2 separate regions of the Homo sapiens genome follow, and region 2 is linked to region 1. The links come from fine-mapping of genetic effects on gene expression. A gene starts in region 1. The other region holds a variant in brackets. All regions are shown on one strand. Distances are between the middles of the regions.

Region 1 (9,415 bases):
CAATGGACATGGGGGAGCAGATATATTTTCAAGATTTCATTTCCTTTAGATATATACTGTTAAAGGAAAAACTTGAGACTGATTAAAGAGTTTGAGAAAAGGACAAGTTACAAATCAGGGAGCCCCCCAAATCAGAATAGCTTCAAAGAGACTTCAGTGCTGCCAGTGGGGTTGGAGAGGATTTAGGGACAGGAAAAGGAAAATGACATAAATAAAATGGAAGTGAAATACAGAAATAGCCAGATTGGTTACAGCTGGGTTACAGACTTATTTGAACACCGAACAGTTGGCCACCTGTGAGTAGTATGTCTTCTGATTGGCTGAGACTTGGCTACTTGTTATAAGAGTAGGTTACAGTCTGTTTACACATCCAGTTAGATTACAGTTCACTATGTATGGATCAACCTTTAGGCTGAACTTACAAGGAAGCAGCTTTAGGCTAAAGTTAACTATACAGAAATAGGATTATTAGATTGTATTGACTTTTGGGGGAGTTGCCATACTCTCTCCCATAATGGCTCTACAAATTTATATTCCCACCAGCAGTGTGCAGGGTTCTCTTTTCTCTACATCCTCACCAACACTTCTCTTGTCTTTATTACAATACTGATTCTCACAGGTGTAAGGTGATATCTCACCATGGTTTTAATTTGCATTTCTCTGATGATTAGTGGTGTTGAGCGCTCTTCATATGCCTGTTAGCTATTCACATGTCTTCTTCAGAAAAATGTCTATTCAAGTCCTTTGCCCATTTTTAAATTGGGTATTTATTTTTGCTATTGAGTTGTGTGAGTTCCTTATAGAGTATATTTGGATATTAAGCACTTATCAGATATATGGTGCCCAAATATTTTCTCCCAGTCTGTAGGTTGCCTTTTCAGTTTGCTGCTTGTTTCCTCTTATGTGGAGAAGCTTTTTTAGTTTGATGTCATACCATTCGTTTATTTTTACTTTTGTTGTTTGTGCTTTTGGTGTTATAGCCAAAAAAATTATCATCAAGACCAATGATAAGAAGCTTTCCACCTATGTTTTCTTCTAGGAGTTTTGGGGTTTCAGATCTCACATTTAAGTCTTCAATTCATTTTGAATGGATTTTTTATGTGGTGTAATACAAGGGTCCAATTTCCTTCTTTTGAATGTGGATATCCCGTATTTCCAGCTCCAATTATTGAAGAGACTTTCCTTTCTCCATAGTGTGTATATTCTCGGCACCATTATCAAACATTAGTAGACCATATATGCATGGGCTCTCTATTTTTCTGCATTGATCTATGTATCTATTTTTATGCCAGTACCATACTCTTTTGATTACTACAGCTTTGTAATATAGTTTGAAATCAGGGAGTATGATGCCTTCAGCTTTCTGCTTCTTTCTCAAGATTGCTTTGATGATTTGGGGTCTTTTGTGGTTCCATATGAAATGTTAGAATTGTTTTTTCTATTTATGTGAAAAATGTCATTAGAATTTTGATAATGATGACATTGAATGTGTAGATTACTTTGGGTAGTAAAGCCATTTTAACAATATTAATTCTTCTGATCTATAAACACAGGCTATCTTTCTACTTATTTATGTCTCCTATAGTATCTTTCAACAGTGTCTTATAATTTTTAGTGTGCAATTTTTTGTGTGCATCTTTCTTTCACCTCCTTGGTTAAATTTATTCATATTTTATTCTTTTTGGTGTTATTGTAAGTGGGATCATTTTCTTAATTTCTTTTTGAATAGTTTGTTGTCAGAAATCAGTAATAGGAAGAACTTTGGAAAATTCACACATGTGCGGAAATTAAACAACACATTCCTGAACAGCCAATGAGCCAAAGAATAAATCAAAAGGGGAATAAACAAGTATCTTGAGACAAATGAAAATGGAAACACAAGGTACCACAACTTATAGGATGCAATAGAAACATTTTTAAGAGGGAAGTTTATAGCGAAAAATACCTACATTAAGAAAAAAGAAAGACATCAAACAACCTAATTTTATATCTCAAGGAACTAGAAGAGGAACAAACTAAGCCCCAAAGTCAGCAGACTGAAGGAAATAAAAAAGATGAGAGCAGAAATAGAAACTAGAAAAACAACAGAAAAGATCAACAGTAAAGATCAACAAAATTAACAAACCTTAGCTAGACTAACCAAGAAAAAAGGTAATTCACATAAACAAAAGTATAAATGAAAGAGGAGACATTACAACTGATATCACAGAAATACAAAAGATCATAATCAACTACTATGAACAATTATACACCAAGAAACTGGATAATTTAGGAGAAATGGACGAATTCCCAGAAACATACCATCTATCCAAACTGAGTCTTGAAGAAACAGAAAATCTGAACAGACCAATAACGAGTAAGGAGATTGAATTAGTAATCATAAACCTCCAAGGAAAAGAGACAAAGGAAAGCCCAGGACCAGGTCTGACCACATCTTTACTCAGTTTTCCCCGCGGCCCCCGGTCCCCACCCCTCTTAGCCTGTCTCCCTAACTTCCTTTCTCCTGAGGTGCTCCCCCAGGAAACTCCTTGCACCAGAATCCCCTACGCAGGCTCTGCTTATAGGGAAGAAATGGACGACAGAGGTGATGGAGTGGGGTGCGCCAATGAAGTATTTTGAATGAAACTAGCAGACACCTTTGTTCCTAAAGATTCCATCGTCACACCAGCTCTGGGATGTTTACTAGCTTCTTCACCCTGAGCTATTCTCAATCTCAGAGCCTTACTGCTCTCTCTCAATCATTCTCTCCTCCTCACCCCTTTCTTTCCAGGTTGCCAATAGGAGCTCCAAATATTTTCTGGCTATTTCATGTAGCCATCTAGTTTTCCTCAGCTCGGCTTCAGGCGCACTTTTGCAAATCAAAGCCATTCAGCAACTCAGAGGAACAAAAAGGGGCTTATTTGAAGGTAGCAGTGTCTATGACTGGCAACCGTCTGTGTGCTCCCTTACACATAGGGTCCTGTGTAAGAAGCCTACACACAATGCCTGGCACACTGCACTCCACACATGGTATGTACACTCCTTGGGCAATGCCTCCTAACGGCTTAGGACCATTCCCTGTCCTCCCGGGGCGTTTAGAATAAAACCCACACTCAGACCCTGCCTCACAAGACCCGACATGATTTGGGTCCTCACCACTCCTCTGCCCTCTTCTCACTTTCCAGCCATGGGATGACCCCTCTTTCTCTTTTCCTGCCTGAGACTCCCAGGAAACCTCTTCCCCTACCTTTTTCTACATAAATCCTACTCTCCCGCCGGCTCAGTTCAAAGCTTCTTCCTCAGAGGTTGCTCTGGCCACTGAAATTAAAAGAGGCCTCCTTCTGTTCATTTTACTAGTGGCATCGCCATGCAGTTTTCCGTGTATTACAGTCAGTTTCCTTGCGTGCGTGTTTGGCTTTTCACTTGTTTTCCCCTTGCACTGTAAACCTCTCAAGGGCAGGACACTCGCTGTCTTGAGGGGCGCTGTAATGCCAGGGCCAGGTCCCTGCTCGTCTGGCGCTCAGCCCGTGCTGCTCTACACGTGTTTGCTGAATGAATGGAGCAGTGAACCCTCAGAAATTCGCCTCCAGATGAGCGCCTTGGCCGTCTCGGCGTCTCCTGGCCTCAGAACATCACCCTTGGCTCTCCCTCAAGGGGGAGCTCCCAAAGCGAGAACGTGACCCTGTCCTGCACCCAGCCCTCCACTCCAGGGCCTCCGCCGGTACACATCTTCGGCCTCAGCCTAACGCACTCTAGCAGGCACAGACCGCCACGCCCCCACCCCTCCAGACGGAAGGACTGCAATCCCCACAAGGCACCGCGACTCAGCGCCACCCGATTGGTGAAGCCTCTGGCGTCGGCCAATAGGACGTGGCTTTGTTGGCGTGTGCCGCGGCCGCGCGAGTCCTGGAAAGCGTTGTTGGCCCGGTTGCTCTGGAGCCGGGTCTCGGGTCTGGTGGCTGCCGGCCCTGCGGCATCTCGCCATGGGGAGCACGGAGAGCAGCGAGGGCCGCAGGGTGTCCTTCGGAGTGGACGAGGAGGAGCGGGTCCGGGTGCTGCAGGGTGTCCGGGTGAGCGGCGCCGCCTGGGCCGGGGCGGGCGTGGAGGCCGCGGGCGCGGGGGGGAGGTGCGGGGCGGAGCGCAGGGCCGGGGCTCTTTCCACGCGTGAGGGGCGTGGGGCTTGGGAGACTCCGGGGGCTCAGGCCAGGAAGAGGCTGAGCCGAGACGCGAGCCCGAGGCTGGCAGCCTTGGAGCTTCGCGACATGGGCTTCAGGGAAGGAGGAGTGAAGAACTGTACAGGTGCGAGGCCCCTGGGACACGAGGGACGCCCTGGCCACGTCCTGGCTCCGGTCGGCTTAGTTTTTACGTTTCTTGAATTTGCGCCCGGCCTCCCAGCCCGTGGCCCCTCAGGTGCGCGCATCTCGTTCTGGGTACGCGGTGTCTCCCACCTGGGCTTTGCCTGGGGACTCAGCTCTTCCCCGCCGGCCTGTTCTCCACAGCACATCTGCGGGGCGCAGGAAGAACCATAGCTCAGATCTGATCCCCTTCCTTGCCTGAAACCCTCCAGTGGGTTCCTAGCGCGCTTGGATGATGCCTTCCCTGGTTCCAAAGCTGGCCGCTGCCCGTCGACCTCTGGGGACTGCATCCCTCTGGGACTGCATCTCGTGCCATTTCCCTCGCGTGGCACCCGCACCTCGTCCCCAGCCTCAGGACCGCCGTGTTTTCCTGGAGGGTGCCGCTGGCTCAGCTCAGGGTCTGTGCGCCGGCTGTTCTCTCTCCTTCAGCTCTCCTTAAATCCCGCTGTTTCTTGTAATTCTTGTTGTAATTCAGATATCACCAGAGAATCCTTCCCTGACCACCCAATCTGAAGTAACCTCCCACCCCGCGTCCAACATTTATTATTTTCATAGCACTCATCACAGTGATCGCTTCTGTTGATAATTGTTTACTTGTTTATTGCGTTTACTGCTAGAGTGTAAGCTTTTTGAGGCTAAGGTTCCTGTCTGATTGAAGACTGTCCCCAGAACCCAGAAGAATAAAAGCAGCTCTTATTGCAGTGTAGGGGCCATGCGTTGGACTAAACCCTTTATAAGTTAACTGATTTAATTTTCAACAGCCCTATTTAGCCCATTATTGTAGATTAAGGAGAAGTGAGGCACTGAGAGGTGAACGAACTGATCCAAGATCATGTAAATAGTAAGTGGGAGAGCTGGGATTGAAACAAGCCAATTCCAGGGCATGTTGCTGTGCTCGGCCTCTTCCTCCACCTGTGTCTACACCTGCAGGTGCTTTGTAAGTAACTGTGGAGAGATGAATGAACCCAGTAAAAGGGACTAGGATTAAATGAAACGCACAGAGCTGGGTGTAGATGAATTAGTTAATTAAGGAGGAATTAGGGAGGTGGCTTAGAAAGACAGACTTCAGGAGTTCTGGCAGGTGCTCATTAGCTGTGTGACCTTGGGTAAAAAACTCTTTTGAGCCTCAATGGCCACATTAAAAAAAAAATTGGGTGTGTATGTATCCTAGGTACTGCCTAGGATAAGATGATGTCTGTGAAAGTGTTAAGGAAACGCACAGAGAGAGTGCTTTGTGGAGGCCTCTCTTCTTAGCCTAGCAGAGTACTTGGCACATTTGGTGCTTGCTAGGCGTTGTATAGTTTTGTGGACCTCACTCGTGGCAAGGATTAAATGGGGGAGGAGATGGCTTGTGTTGGAAGGCCGAGAGGGAGGAACCTGAATTGGAATTTAGAAAGATAAGCTTGGCTCTGTTTGGGTGCTCTCACCCTTGTGATTTGGTCTCCTGTTTTGGGGAATGTTGGAAAGTTAAGTTGGAGTCCTCAGAGGTTCAGGGGAGTGCCTTTGGGGGTGCCTTCTTTCAAGTTGATTGGAAACCTCATGTTTTTTGAGTATTATATAAGACAGGTACATTTCATTTCTAGTTCTCTTAAATACTTCTGCAACATATAAATTCTCTGTATTTAAAGATGGAGAATTGAGCTTAAAGGAGTTAAGGAATTTGCCCAAGGTGTTAACCTGAGTAACTTCTGGGACTTTAATTAAGATCTTTTCGGTGCAAAAAGCAACTTTTTCTCACTTCTGCAATTCCCCCCCATGATGTATGCAAGGCAGCCTGAAAATTTTGTGACAATACCCATACCTGTCCTGACAGGGATGATAGTGCCCCACTTAGTTTTAAAACTGGAAGGAACTTTGGTGACTGACTGCTTTCTTTTCCAGCTGGGCAAACTAATCAGAGAGGATAAATGACTTGTCCAGAGGTGCACAGTAAGGTGCACAGCCCCACGTTATGAGAGCCACGTCCTTCCTTCTGCTTGTGTTTGAAAGAGGAAAACTGAAGAAAGGAGGTGATGGTATGAAGAAAGGATGTTTTGGTGTAGAGGCTTTTTCTGTTAGCAGAGTTACTTGAGGGTTGAGGAATTCACCTTGTCTTTAGGCAAGTGAGTGAAAAAGATTGCCAGATCAACAAAACAGTTGCCAAAGGGAACAAATCAGTTCATTTAATGAGAAGCAGATGCCAAAGAAGATCTGCCCCAGCTTCTTTAGAGCAAGTTGAATATTCTTAATGACCATTTGTATTTAATTCCTGAGGCCTGGTCTTAGAAAGTGTTCTCGTCCCTGTAAGATTAAGTGTTAGTGGCTGGTAGTGGTGGCTCATGCCTGTAATTTCAGCACTTTGGGAGGCCGAAGTGGGCAGATCACCTGAGGTCAGGAGTTAAAGACCAGTCTGGCCAACATGGTGAAACCCTGCCTCTACCAAAAATACAAAAGTTAGCTGGGCATGGTGGCACACACCTGTACACCCAGCTACTTGGGAGGCTGAGGTAGGAGAATCCTTGAACCCAGGAGGGGGAGGTTGCAGTGAGCCGAGATTATGCCAGTGTCCTCCAGCCTGGGTGACAGAGACTCCGTCTTAAAAAAAAAAAAAAAAAAGATTAAGTGCTAGGCCTTGCTAGTTTACATACTTAGTTTGCATAAATTCACAAAGTGTGTTCAAACCGTAATTCCATGGAAGGTAAAAGAAATTTAATGAATGCAAAATGCTGCAGTTATATTCAACTCCAGTTTTCAGAGCAAATGTGTGAAATACGTAAAGATTTTGTTTTAACCAGTACATTTAACCTCATCCTTCAGTAAGAGAAGGCACACATGGCAGTCATGGCGCATATGTGTCTGCCTTCCCTCTCCTCCTCTCCACATGAGCCGCCCTTTTTGGTGATTCAGCTGATGTTGGTTGCTTGTGAGCATCCAGACTGCTCACTGTTCACCAGCCTTTCCCCCTTTCCCACCACTGAGCCCACCCCTGTTCCAGTCACTTGCATGTTCCCAGAGTCATTATCCCCTCCAGGCTTGATCAACTTTACCGTCATGCATTGCTCCCATGAGGCTGATTCTGGACCACGGTGGAGGGGAAGATCAAGAAGAATGTGGTCAGACACACAAGAGAGTCCCCCATTGTGCCAGTGCCAGAGAGGCCGTGTGCCAGAGCGCTGCACCTGCAACTGCCAGTTATTCCTCACCTCAGTGAATGTCCACTGCCTTCATGTTACTTGCCCAGCACTGGGCCTGGCCTTGCTGAGACAATGAGGGACAAAGCCGAGGACCCTGTCATCATAGAGACCTCAGCCCAGTAGGGAGAATGGACCAGAAAGGAAGAGACACAGGCAAAAGACTCAAAGAGCTGCCAGAGCTAAGGAGGAAACAAAAAGGGTGCAAAAGCTACTGGGGCTGCCTGCTTGAGGTGGGATGGTCAGGCAGTGCCTCTCAGGAGGAGATGTTGACTGTGGCCTGAGCCAGCCCTATGAAGAGTGCATATTCACTCTGTGCTAAGCACTCTGCCAAGTGTATTCAGAGCATCACCCCAGAAATTCCACATGCTTACCTTGTGAGGGGTCATTATCCCCATCTCAGAAGTGAGGAAACAGGTTCAGTGAGGTGAAGTAACCCAAGGTCACAGTGCTGGAACCTCAGGGTCTCTGACTCCATAGCCCATGTGCTTGGCAGCCACAAGGAGGGTAGGATGCTTGAGGATGTGGCAGGTGGTGAGGCCAGACTCAGGGCCCAAATGCCAGGCAGGGCTGTGAACATGTTATTCTGGAGGCCACGCTGCAGTTCTCTGGTCAGGAGCAGAGCTTTGGAAAGGTTCTGTCTGGTGACACTGATTTTTCTTTAAAAACAAAAACCAACAGTTGTAAGCCAGGTGCAGTGGTATGTACCTGTAGTCCCAGCTACATGGGAGGCTGAGGCAGGAGGATCACCTGAGCCCAGTGGTTCGAGTCCAGTGTAGCAAGACCCCATCTCTTGAAAAAAAAAAAAAAAAAGCTTTATTGGGATGCATCATTTTACATATTATAAAATTCACCCATTTCAATGCTTTTTAGTAAACTGTGGTGACAGAATTGGACAACTGTCACCACAATCCAATTATAGAACATTTACAAGACCTAAAAAGATGCCTTGACCTGTTTGCAGTCACTCCCCATTCCCACTCCCAGTCCCAGGTAACCATTAATCCTGTTTCTCTATAAATTTACCTTCTCTGGACATTTCGTAGATAGTCCCCTCTTGGTCTTTCAATGACCTATCCATGGGTCGTTGGTTCCAGGACCCCCATGGATACCAAAATCCTTGGATGCTCAAGTCCCTAATGGAAAATGGTGTATTTGCATATATACTACACATATTCTCCTGTATACTTTAAATTATCTCCAGATTACTTATAATACCCAAACACTGTAAATTTTGTGTAAATAGTTGTTATACTGTATTTTTAAAGATTTGTATAATTTTTTTGGTATATTATCTTTTATTGTTTCTTTTTCTCAAATGTTTTCCTTTGGACCCATGGATACGGAGGACTGACTGTAAACGTAAATGATTAATGCATCTTTTATTTCTGGCTTCTTTCACTGAGCAAGTGTTTTTGATGTTGGTTCATTGATGTCGTAGTATATATCAGTAGTCCATCCTTTTTATTGCTGAATGGTATCCTGTTGTATGTATATACTGCATTTGGCTTATTCAGTCACCAGTTGAGGGCATTTGAATTTTTTCTACTTCTTGGTTATTGTGAGTAACGCTGCTATGAACATTTATGTATTTACAAGTTGTTTTTTTGCAGGCAAATGTTTTTAGTTCTCATGGATAGATACCTGAGAGTGGATTTGTTGGGTCATTCAGTTTATGAATTTTGTGAATTGTCAGGTTTAATTTTTAAAGAAACTGCTGAACTGTTTGCTGAAGAAGCTGTACCATTTGATATTTCCACCAGCAATACATGGGATTCCAATTTCTTCATATCTTCACCAACACTTGTTATTATCTTCGATTCTAGCAATTCTAGTGGCTGTGAAATTGTATCTCATCGTGGTTTGAATTTGCATTTCCCTAATAACTAATGATGTTGAGCGTCTCTTCAT
Region 2 (9,415 bases), 270 kb after region 1:
AGGAAGCATGTGTGCAGGTCCTGTGTCCTGGGCGCTCGTCCTGATGTCTGCTCACTGCCTCCTCCCTTTGTTCACACATAGCCCTGGAGCGCCCACCCTGGAGCCGGAGCATCCAAGCCTTGAGCCACTCCTGAACATCTAAGTCTGTTTTCTCATGTGTAAAGTGGGGACAGGCATAGGCACCGTCCCCTTAGGGAGCTGAACGCTCATGGAGTTGGGAACACAGGCAGGGCAAGTCTGCCCCCCAGGAAGGCCTTGGCTGCTGAGAGCCACTTCACCAACAGTACGCCCTGGGGGCCAGGGGCTTCATCCCTTGCCTGGTGATGGGGTGGGGTATAAAGGGTGTCTTCACTGGGAGTGACTTGGAAGCGGATCCCAACTCAGGAGCTAGCCCAGCCCACCCTCTGCCCACTGCCCCCTCCCTCACCACATGGGTGTGGACCCCGGTACCTCCTGAGAACTGCCCTGCAGGTTTATCTCTGAGTCAGCTGCTCAAGGGACACAGAGAACTAACATTACGCTCTCCCCATTCTATCCCAGGTGCCCTCCAAGCAGTAATGATACCAGTCCATTTCCTCATGGGCTTAGGATCTAGCAGGAAAGGTGACATTTGCCATCAATTGTGGTGAGGCCCCCAAGCTCAGGGCCTTAGGGCTTGGCCTAGGTCAGTGGTCCCCAGCCTTTCTGGCACAAGAGGCCAGTTTTGTAGAAGACAAATTTTGCATGGATGGGGTCGAGGCAGTGGGGAATGGTTTCAGAATGAAACCGTTTTCCCTCAGGTCACTGGGCATGAGCTAGATTCTCATAAGGAGTATGCAACCTAGATCCCTCGCATGTGCAGTTTACAATAGGGTTTGCACTCCTATGAGAATCTGATGCTGCCTCTGATCTGACAGGAGGCGGAGCTCAGGGAATGCTCGCCGCCCACCGCCCCCGTTCCTAACAGATCAGGGACTGGTACTGGTCCACAGCCCGGGAGTTGAGAACCCCTGGCCCAGGTGATGCGAAGTTAGAGGGCTGAGCTGGTGCTAGCCAGGTGAAGGAGCTGCTTTGTTCATGCTTTTTTCAGGGGGTGGGGGTTCTTTTGTTGTTTAGAGACAGTATCTCACTCTGTCATCCAGGCTGGAGTGCAGTGGCTCGATCCTAGCTCTCTGCAGCCTTGACCCCATGGGCTTAAGCGATCCTCTTGTCTCATCCTTCCAAGTAGCTGGGACTACAAGTGTGTGCCACTAGTGTTTATAATAGTGTCAAAATATTGGAAACAACCTAAATGCCCAACAATAGGGGATGAAATAAAATGTGGTACCTCCATAAGACAGCTCTAAAGCCTCTAAGAATAGGGATACTGAGTGTATTCACGTGGCACTTTCTCCACTCCATTTAAAGAAGTAGCATGCACTGTACAAACCCATTCTTTAAATGAAAAAAATCTTACCTATGCATATGTAAAAATATATAGATGCCCAGAGAAAAAGGTCAACAGCATTAGACATTAAAATGTTATCGCGCTTTTCTCTGGGGATAGGATTATGGATGTTTTGGTTTTTGTTTTATAATTGACTGTATTTTCTGTTTTTCTAAGTTAATCTGAATTTTGTTTATTACCCCCAGGCTAGAAGCCTCCTGAATGTAGATGTTGGACATGGTCTTCCACAGTCTGGGCCTGTCGGGTCGTGGCCAGGCCGGGGTCCGCTCTTCCGACACATCTGGGGTCTTCAGTGGGTGCTACCTGGGCCCAGCTGTTCAGCCCCCAGGCCAAGCCTGGATCTCCTTGAGTATTTTGCTTTCCCTGCCTGCCAAGCAGAGAGAGGCAAGGGCATAAACCCTGCGGAGGAGGAGAAGGGGGAGGAGGGACAAGGCAGGAGGCGACTGTGTGCCAGAGGGAGGCCCATAAAGCCATGGGAGTGGCAGCCGCAAGAGGGGTCTCCGTTGTTTATTCACCCTTTGTGTTTCATCTACTGAAGATGGAGCATGAGCAACACGAGGGAAAAGCCCTGTCCTCTGAGCTTAGAGATCAGTGGGGGAGACAGACTAGATCAAAAACAGGTTCTATAGGGTGGTACACAATGCAGAAAAAGCAGAGGGGATGGGACAGCCCGAAGCAGGCTGGGACAGGGGCTGCGGTTCCCTGCACGCCTCCTCTCCCAGGAGAGACACCCACACACAGGCGAGCCACCTCATTGCCCTGGCCCTGGGACCAGCACCGCCCAAACCGGGTTCTCTATAAGGAAAAACACTTCCCCCTCATATGTGATAACCTGCCTCATTAAATTTAATGGGCTGGTTATTCCCGTTAAATAAACATCAACTAATTATGAAAAACATATTTGCCGAAGTTTGACTATGAAATGGACGAGCCAATTACATGGTTATTCAGCCTCAAAACACACTCAGTAATGAAGTGGGGTGCAGACTAGCAGTGGGTGGGATGGGGGAGTGCCTGGAAGGCAGAGATCCCCTCTACCCTTTCCCATGCTGCAGAGCTTGGGGGGCCTCCAAATGTCAGCTTGCTGGACAGAGGCTCGGTGTCGGTCACCCCCTCCCGCACACGTGACAGAACCCTCGCTGAAACTGACTACCGCAAAGAATGTGTGGGCTTCAAAAGTCCAGGAGTGAGCTTCAGGCCAGCTGCATCTAGAGGCTTAACCACAGTTACTGGGACCTGGGCTTTCTCCTTCCAGCCCAGCTCTTTCTGTCCCCATTGTTTTGTTCCCAGCTTTCCATGGGTCCAAGCTCTGGTGTAGCTTAGCAAGGTCCTCTGCTGAGGGGCTCACCAGGCCAAGATGAGGTGAGGCACCCCGTGTGTCTCCGTGAGAGTCTCCAGCAATGCTCACCTTACAAGGTGAATTTCTCTTTCCCTGAACTTCCAGCTCAGGGTTAAAGGTCAGATAAAAAAAAAAAAAAACCCTAGCACTAACAAAGTAATATTAGAAAATCCTCCAGGGAGACCAGTAAGCATAAGAAAAAAACTATTCCACATCATCACGACTAACCAGGGAGATGCAAACTGAAACCACCAGGAAGTGCTTCTACATCCAAGCAATGGCTGAGGTGAAAGGACAGGCAATACCCAGCGTCAGTGAGAAGGAGCAACCCCCGGGGGCTCACTGCTGCTGTGAGGAGTATGAAAGGATGACAGTTGCTTCGGAAAATGGCTTGCCAGTTCCTTACAAAGTTAAACATTCGCCTACACTGCGATGCAGCAATCTTACTCCTGAGTTAATACCCAAGAGAATGAATATGTATGTCCTCTAAATAGTACGCACAAGAATGTTCATAGAGCCTTACTCATCACAGCCACAAGGTTAAAATAACCCAAGTGCCCATGGAAAGTAGAATGGTTAAGTTGTAGTTTATTCACACGATGAAATACTACAGCATCACGAAAAAGAACACACTCGAGCTCCCTGTAGCAACATGGATGGATCTCTCAGACACCTCGCGGTGAGAGACAGAGGCAGATACAGAAAAATTCACGGTTGTATTAGCTTTCTGCTGCCTCCTAACTAATGACCACAAACAGTCACTTGCAGCAATATATGTCTGTCCCCTGCTTTCCGTGGGTCAGAGCTCTGGTGTGGTGCAGCGAGGTCCAAGACTGCCCTCCAGATGTGGCTAGCCTGGGTTCCTCTCTGCAGCTCAGGCTCCTCATTCAAGCTCACCTGGATATTGGCAGAATTCATTATCTTGCTGGAGGATCGATGGGCTGTCTTTTTGCTATCAGCTCAGCTAGAGGCCACCAGTCGTCCCCTGCCTGGAGACTTGCTCACAGACTCTCCATTGCCAGCAAAGAGATCCCTTGTATGTGTAACATAATCATGAGAGGGACATGCCTTCACATTTGCCCAATCTATTGCTTGGAAGCAAGTCACACACTTAAGGTGGGGGGGATTATAGAGATCTGACTCATGGGAGACCTGGAGTATGTCTGCCATGGTACTGGATGGGTCTGTTTATATGAAGTTCAAAGATAGGCAAAACTAACCTATGGTGAAGGAGTCTGGATAGGGGTTCTCTGGGGGGCGAGGGGTGGGGTCAGAAGGAACCTTTGTTTTGTGGAGATTACACATGTATTTGTGTAGAAGTGTAAAGATGCATTCATTGAGCTGTGTGCCTAAGGATTGGGGACTGCATTGTATGTGAAGGAAATAAGAAGGAGAGAGGGAGAAGGGAAAGGAAAAAGGAAGGAAAGAAGGGAGGAGAGAGAGATCTATCTAAAAGCAGCTCTTAGTTTGTATGTTTTTTTGCAGAGAGGCAGGATGTCCCTCTGTATCTGCACGTTGGACACAGTGTATACGTCTCTTCATGGACACAGGAGACACCCATATCAGTTTTTGCTCTGGTGAGCTGGGGGCAGGTGCTGGAGGGAGGCCGACTTCATTGTATCCTTTTATGCATTTCTTGGATTTTTTTTTTACAACGAGCATATATTTTAATAATTAAAACATCTTAAAAAAAAAAAAAGGCCAGACAACTCAAAGGGTAAAGTGTACTTGGGGCGGCGGTGGCTGTGATATCAGAGCAATTGTCCCCACACCATCCCCACCTTATAGTGTGAAGTTGAGAGGTGAGTGCAGCTGTAAGTTGGGGAGACTGCTAGCATCTGTTCCAGGTTGGGGAAAGTCTCTTGTATTTTCCTCCTAGTGGCTGCAGCAAAGGGTCAGGTAGGGACACCACACCTGGGAATGCACACAGAGGAAGGTGAAACCAAGAAATAGATGCCTGGTGACATTATGGGAGTCCCCGGATTCAGCCCTGCCTGAAGCCAGACAGGGAAGCACATTGATGAATGTCCCTTGGGATGAAGCAAAGCCGGGTTTCAGCCAGCTTCCTCCGGTGCTGTCCTGCCCATGGTTTATGTCCGGTGTCTACTCTGACTGGCTGTTAAACATATACATATTTTTCAGTTTTTAAAGATGGAGTCACACTGTGTTGTCCAGGCTGGAGTCAACCTCCTGAATTCAAGTGATCCTCCCCCCTCAGCCTCCCAAGTAGCTGGGACTGCAGTCGCATGCCACTGCACCTAGCTTTGGCTGTTAAATGTTTAAATGTTTAAATATTTTAAACATTTTGGTGTTTATTCCTTGAGCCCAAAAAGCTCTGCCATCTGGATGGGGTCTCCAGGCCATGGGGCTTGGAGCTAGGTGCTGTGTGTTCAGGTCCAGCTCCTCCCTTCGCTGCCCTGCTGCCCCCTCCTCAGTGGGCCTGCGTCCCTGGGGCTGGTACCTGGCACACCACGTGCCCAGGAAGGGTGGGCAACTCGGTTGGCCTGGGCTTCTGAGGGCACAGGAGAGCTGGGCTGGTTCTGCCTGCGCATTTTCTGTGGAATGCAGACCATGCTGGCAACACCAGGGCCTCGGGACACCTCTGCTTCTGACGCAGGCCCAGGACAAGGGGTGATGCCCTGTGGTGAGCTGCAGCTGCTCCCAACCCAGGCCGGGTGGGCGGGTGCTTCAAGGCAGGCTTCCCAGAAGAGGAGGAGCCTGTGCGGGGGCTGGAGGAAGGTCAGCAGGGTGACCTCAGGGGAAATAAGTTGTTCCCTCTGTCTCCAGAACAGAGGAGCAGAACAAGCATCATGTGCAAAGCTCGTGGTGAACCGGGGAAAGCACAAAGCACCCCC[G/A]TGATGGAGGGTGGGGGTAGGGTAGGAAGAGAGGCTGGCAGGGGGAGGGCGACTCTCTGCTTCCTCCGGGGGCCTCTGTGGCTCCGTCTGTGGCTGTCCAGAGCAGTTGCCAAGTATGCCCCTGGGGCCTGTCACTTCTTCATGCCTTGGTTTCCTCATCCATGTAAAGGGGGCAGTCGTGGCCCCTCCCCACCCACCCGGTGGTCAAGATGCCTTGGGGAACCTGGCATAGGGCCGGCCCTTCAAATTTCTTTGCTCTGGTCCTCACAGAGACCCCAGGGCCACGTGATTTGTGGTGTGGTCCCGAAAAGGCACTGAGGGATGGTGTCGGGAGGGGACCCCATGTTGCTGCCTTCAAACCCTGTGCTCCTTCAGATGAGCCCCCAGCTGCCATGGTGGCATTCCCCGCTGGGCCAGGGTTGCTCCATAGGGCTGAGGCAGAGTATGGCATGGCGGTTAGAAGAGATCCCCAAACTCCCACCCTCCCTTTCCAGCTCCACTCCCACCCATGCACCAACCCATCAATAGTGCAGGCTGCTGCAAAGAGGCATGCATGGGGCTGGGGGTGGGTAGGGGGCTCCCAGCAGGCTCTCCATGGCTGGGGCTGGAATCCAAGGCTAGCAGCTCAGGCCCCTGGAGGCAGCCTGCTGCTGGTCAGGTGGCAGATTGTGTTTTCCAAAGACTGCCTCCCCTGCACATCCGTCCTGCAGGGCTTTGCAATGCACAGTGGGCCTGTCACCCCTGCCAGAAGAGGGGGCTGTGCTCTGTTCCCTGGAGAGCCATGGGGCTTGTCACCAATCTGCCTGATGCAGCGTAGCCCAGCGGTGGTGCCCTCCAGGCTTCTGAGCCCCAAACCCCCGCTTCTCCTCCTCTGTACTTCCTCTCCCTGCCCCCCTGGATGGGAGCTGTGCATGGACACATAAGAAGGTCGGCTGCCCTGAAGCCACCATGCTGGAGAGGCTGTGGAAAGGCCCCACAGAGCTAGACAGAGCTGCCAAAGAGCCCCGCCCCAGGGGAGTCTTGCCAGACAGGTGGGTGAGGAGCTGCAGCCTGTGCAAGTCCCAGCTGAGGCCTCGGACACTGGGACAGAGACCAGCCTTTCCCACTGTCCTCTCTGAATTCCCTGCAGAGACCATAAGAGAGAAGAGCAGCTACTGGCTGAAGCCACTACATTTTAGGGCGACTTGTGATGCTGCAGCAACTGATAGCAACTGCACCCCCACAGCCCCTGATGGATGCTCTGCCTGGCACCAGGCTCTGTGCCCCTGAGAAGATGGGCTCCCTGGCTTGCAGAGCTGCTATTTGTGGGGCCGGAATAATAAACAGCTGAATGGACCAGAGACTATCAGTTGGTTAAATGGGACTGGGATGCATTTTCCATCAGGGAATCAATCGGGGCTCCTCTGAAGAGGTGATATGAGCTCTGAGGCCTGGAGAAGGAAGAGATGGCTCTGGGAGCTGGGACCAGGCAGCCCAGCCCAGGATTGCTGTGATGGCCTCTGCTGGGTATGGCCCCCAGAGGCCTGCTGGCCTGTGAGCTCTATGGGGGTGCACAGGGCACTGGTTCTGCCCAAGAGGAAACGCCAGCAGTGGAGTTGGTGCTGGTGTAAGAGCAACAGCAAAGGTATTTTTTTTAACTTTTTATATTGAAATAATGATAATCTGTAACAATTACAGATTCACAGGAAGTTGGAAAGATAATAGAGAGAGAAGCCTGTGTACCCTTCACCCAGTTTCCCCCAATGGTCACATTCTACATAACCACCACACATCAGAAAAGGGACATTGGCACTGGTGTGACAAGGGTGTCAAGCCCTGTGTCACTTTATCACACATGGAGATCCATGTTTCTGTCCCTGTAACCAGGATACAGAGCTGTTCCCTCTCCATGGAGACCCCCTGGTACTCCCTTTCACAGTGACAATCACCCCCCTACCCCAGCTCCTGGCAGCCGCCAATCTCCTCTCCATCTCTATGATTTTGTTATTTCAAAAATGTTATATAAATGGAATTATGCCATTTACATTTTCTGTAATTACTGACATAACTTCAGTCTGCTGTTTTATTTTTTGCTTTGTTTGTTCCTGTGTTTGTTGGTGGTGGTGTTTCTCTATTTTCTTTTTTTTGCCTTGCTGAGTGTTACTTGGACATATTTAAGCATCTATTTTGGTTTTTGTACAGTGTTTTTAGTGTATATCTTTGTATAGATTTCTAGTGGCTGCCATACTGCATTATACATATGTACTTATCACAGTCTACTGCCATCAACATTTTACCATTTCGAGTGACATGTAGAAAGCTTCCCTCTCTTTGTGTCCCTTTTCCCCTTCCATTTATAATATAATTATCCTAAATATTTTTTCTACATACATTGAGACATTCGACAATGCTATAATTTTTGCTTCAACCACCAAATGTAACTTAGAAACCTTCAGAGAAGGGGTCCATTGTATTTACCCATAGTTTTGCTCTTTCCATTGTACTTTCTTCCTGATGTCTCAAGATTCCTTCCTTATCACTTTCTTTCCATGAGAAGAACTTCCTTTGGCCCTCCTTTCACAGTAGGTTTGCTGGCAACAAACTTACTTTTCCCTTCACCTGAGAAGGTCTTGATTCCTCCTCATTCCTGAGGGATAGTTTCACTGGGTATAGAATTTATGGTTGACAGCTCTTTTCTTATGGCACTTAAAAACGTTCCACTTATTTCTTGCCTCCATGCTTTCTGATGAGACATCCATGTTTTTTGGAAGGTGGTTACGTGGCTGCTTTCAAAATTGGGGTTTGTTGTTGTTTAGTTTTTGGAAGTCTGACTGTGATATGTCTTGGTGTGGATTTCCTTGGGTTTATAACGTTTGGAGTTCATTCAGCTTCTTAAATCCTTACATTTATGTCTTTTGCCAAGTTTAGGAGATTGCTTCTTCAATATTTTTTCGGCTTTGTCCTCTTTCTCTTCTCCTCCTGGCAATTAGATGACATGAATATTAGATCTTTTGTTATCTCTCAGAGAACTCTTTTCTCCCACCCCTAGTCTATTTTCTCTCTGTTTCAGACTGGGTGGTTTATATTGCTCTATCTCCAGGTTCACTGCATCTTTCCTTTGTCCCCTCTGTTCTGCTTTGGAGTTATCGATTAAGTTTTTATTCTGATTATTGTATGTTTTTAAAAAATTCTAAAGTGTCCATTTGGTTCTCTTTATAACTTCTATTTCCTTGCTGAAACATTCTTTATTTTCATTTGTTTCAAGCATGTTCATAATTGCTCATCAAAGCACCTTTAGGATGGCTGCTTTAAAAGCCTCATCAGGTAATCCTGATATTCCTTCCTGTTCAACATATACCAGTATTGGTGTATGCTGATTGTATTTTCTGGTACAACTGACATTTCTCTGGTTCTTGCTATGACAGGTGATTTTCTTATTGGATCTTGAAAGTTTGGGGTATTGTATGTTGAGACTCTGGATTACATTTCAATCTTCTGTTTCACAGCTGGCCTCTCCTGACCCCATATGGTAGACAGAGAGGGGTGCTGCCCCATTACATCAGGAATGGGGGAGGGAAACCCAGCATCCCCACTTTAACCCAGGTGTTTTTAGCACAATGAGAAAACTTGGGTTGCTTCCCTCATCTCCAGGGAAGCAGGAGGCTGATCTCTTGCTGCCCTGCTTCTTGGCAGGGCAGTGGGGGCAAGGGCTGCTAGGCCTTAAAAAGAGGGTGCCAGGGATGGCTTTTCCAGAGGCTATGGCCCTGGAGAGGGCTCCCATACTTGGGAACATCTTTGGTGACCTGACTGTGACCC

What was found. PIP is the estimated chance that this variant, and not a neighbour inherited with it, causes the effect.
Region 2: its variant is fine-mapped to the expression of CHCHD6 in lung (TOPMed, PIP 0.91).

What each region holds. Positions count from the first base shown.
Region 1 is chr3:126,700,351-126,709,765 of GRCh38, forward strand. It overlaps CHCHD6 (coiled-coil-helix-coiled-coil-helix domain containing 6), which reads left to right and starts at 3,890. Exons shown (of 8, transcript NM_032343.3): 1 at 3,890-4,049. The coding sequence starts at 3,963. RefSeq lists enhancers at 3,470-3,529, 4,590-5,141 and a silencer at 4,080-4,279.
Region 2 is chr3:126,966,641-126,976,055 of GRCh38, forward strand. No RefSeq gene overlaps it. Among named protein-coding and RNA genes, the nearest start is that of PLXNA1, 12 kb to the right of the region's middle. The variant G/A (reference allele first, on the strand shown) is at 5,621.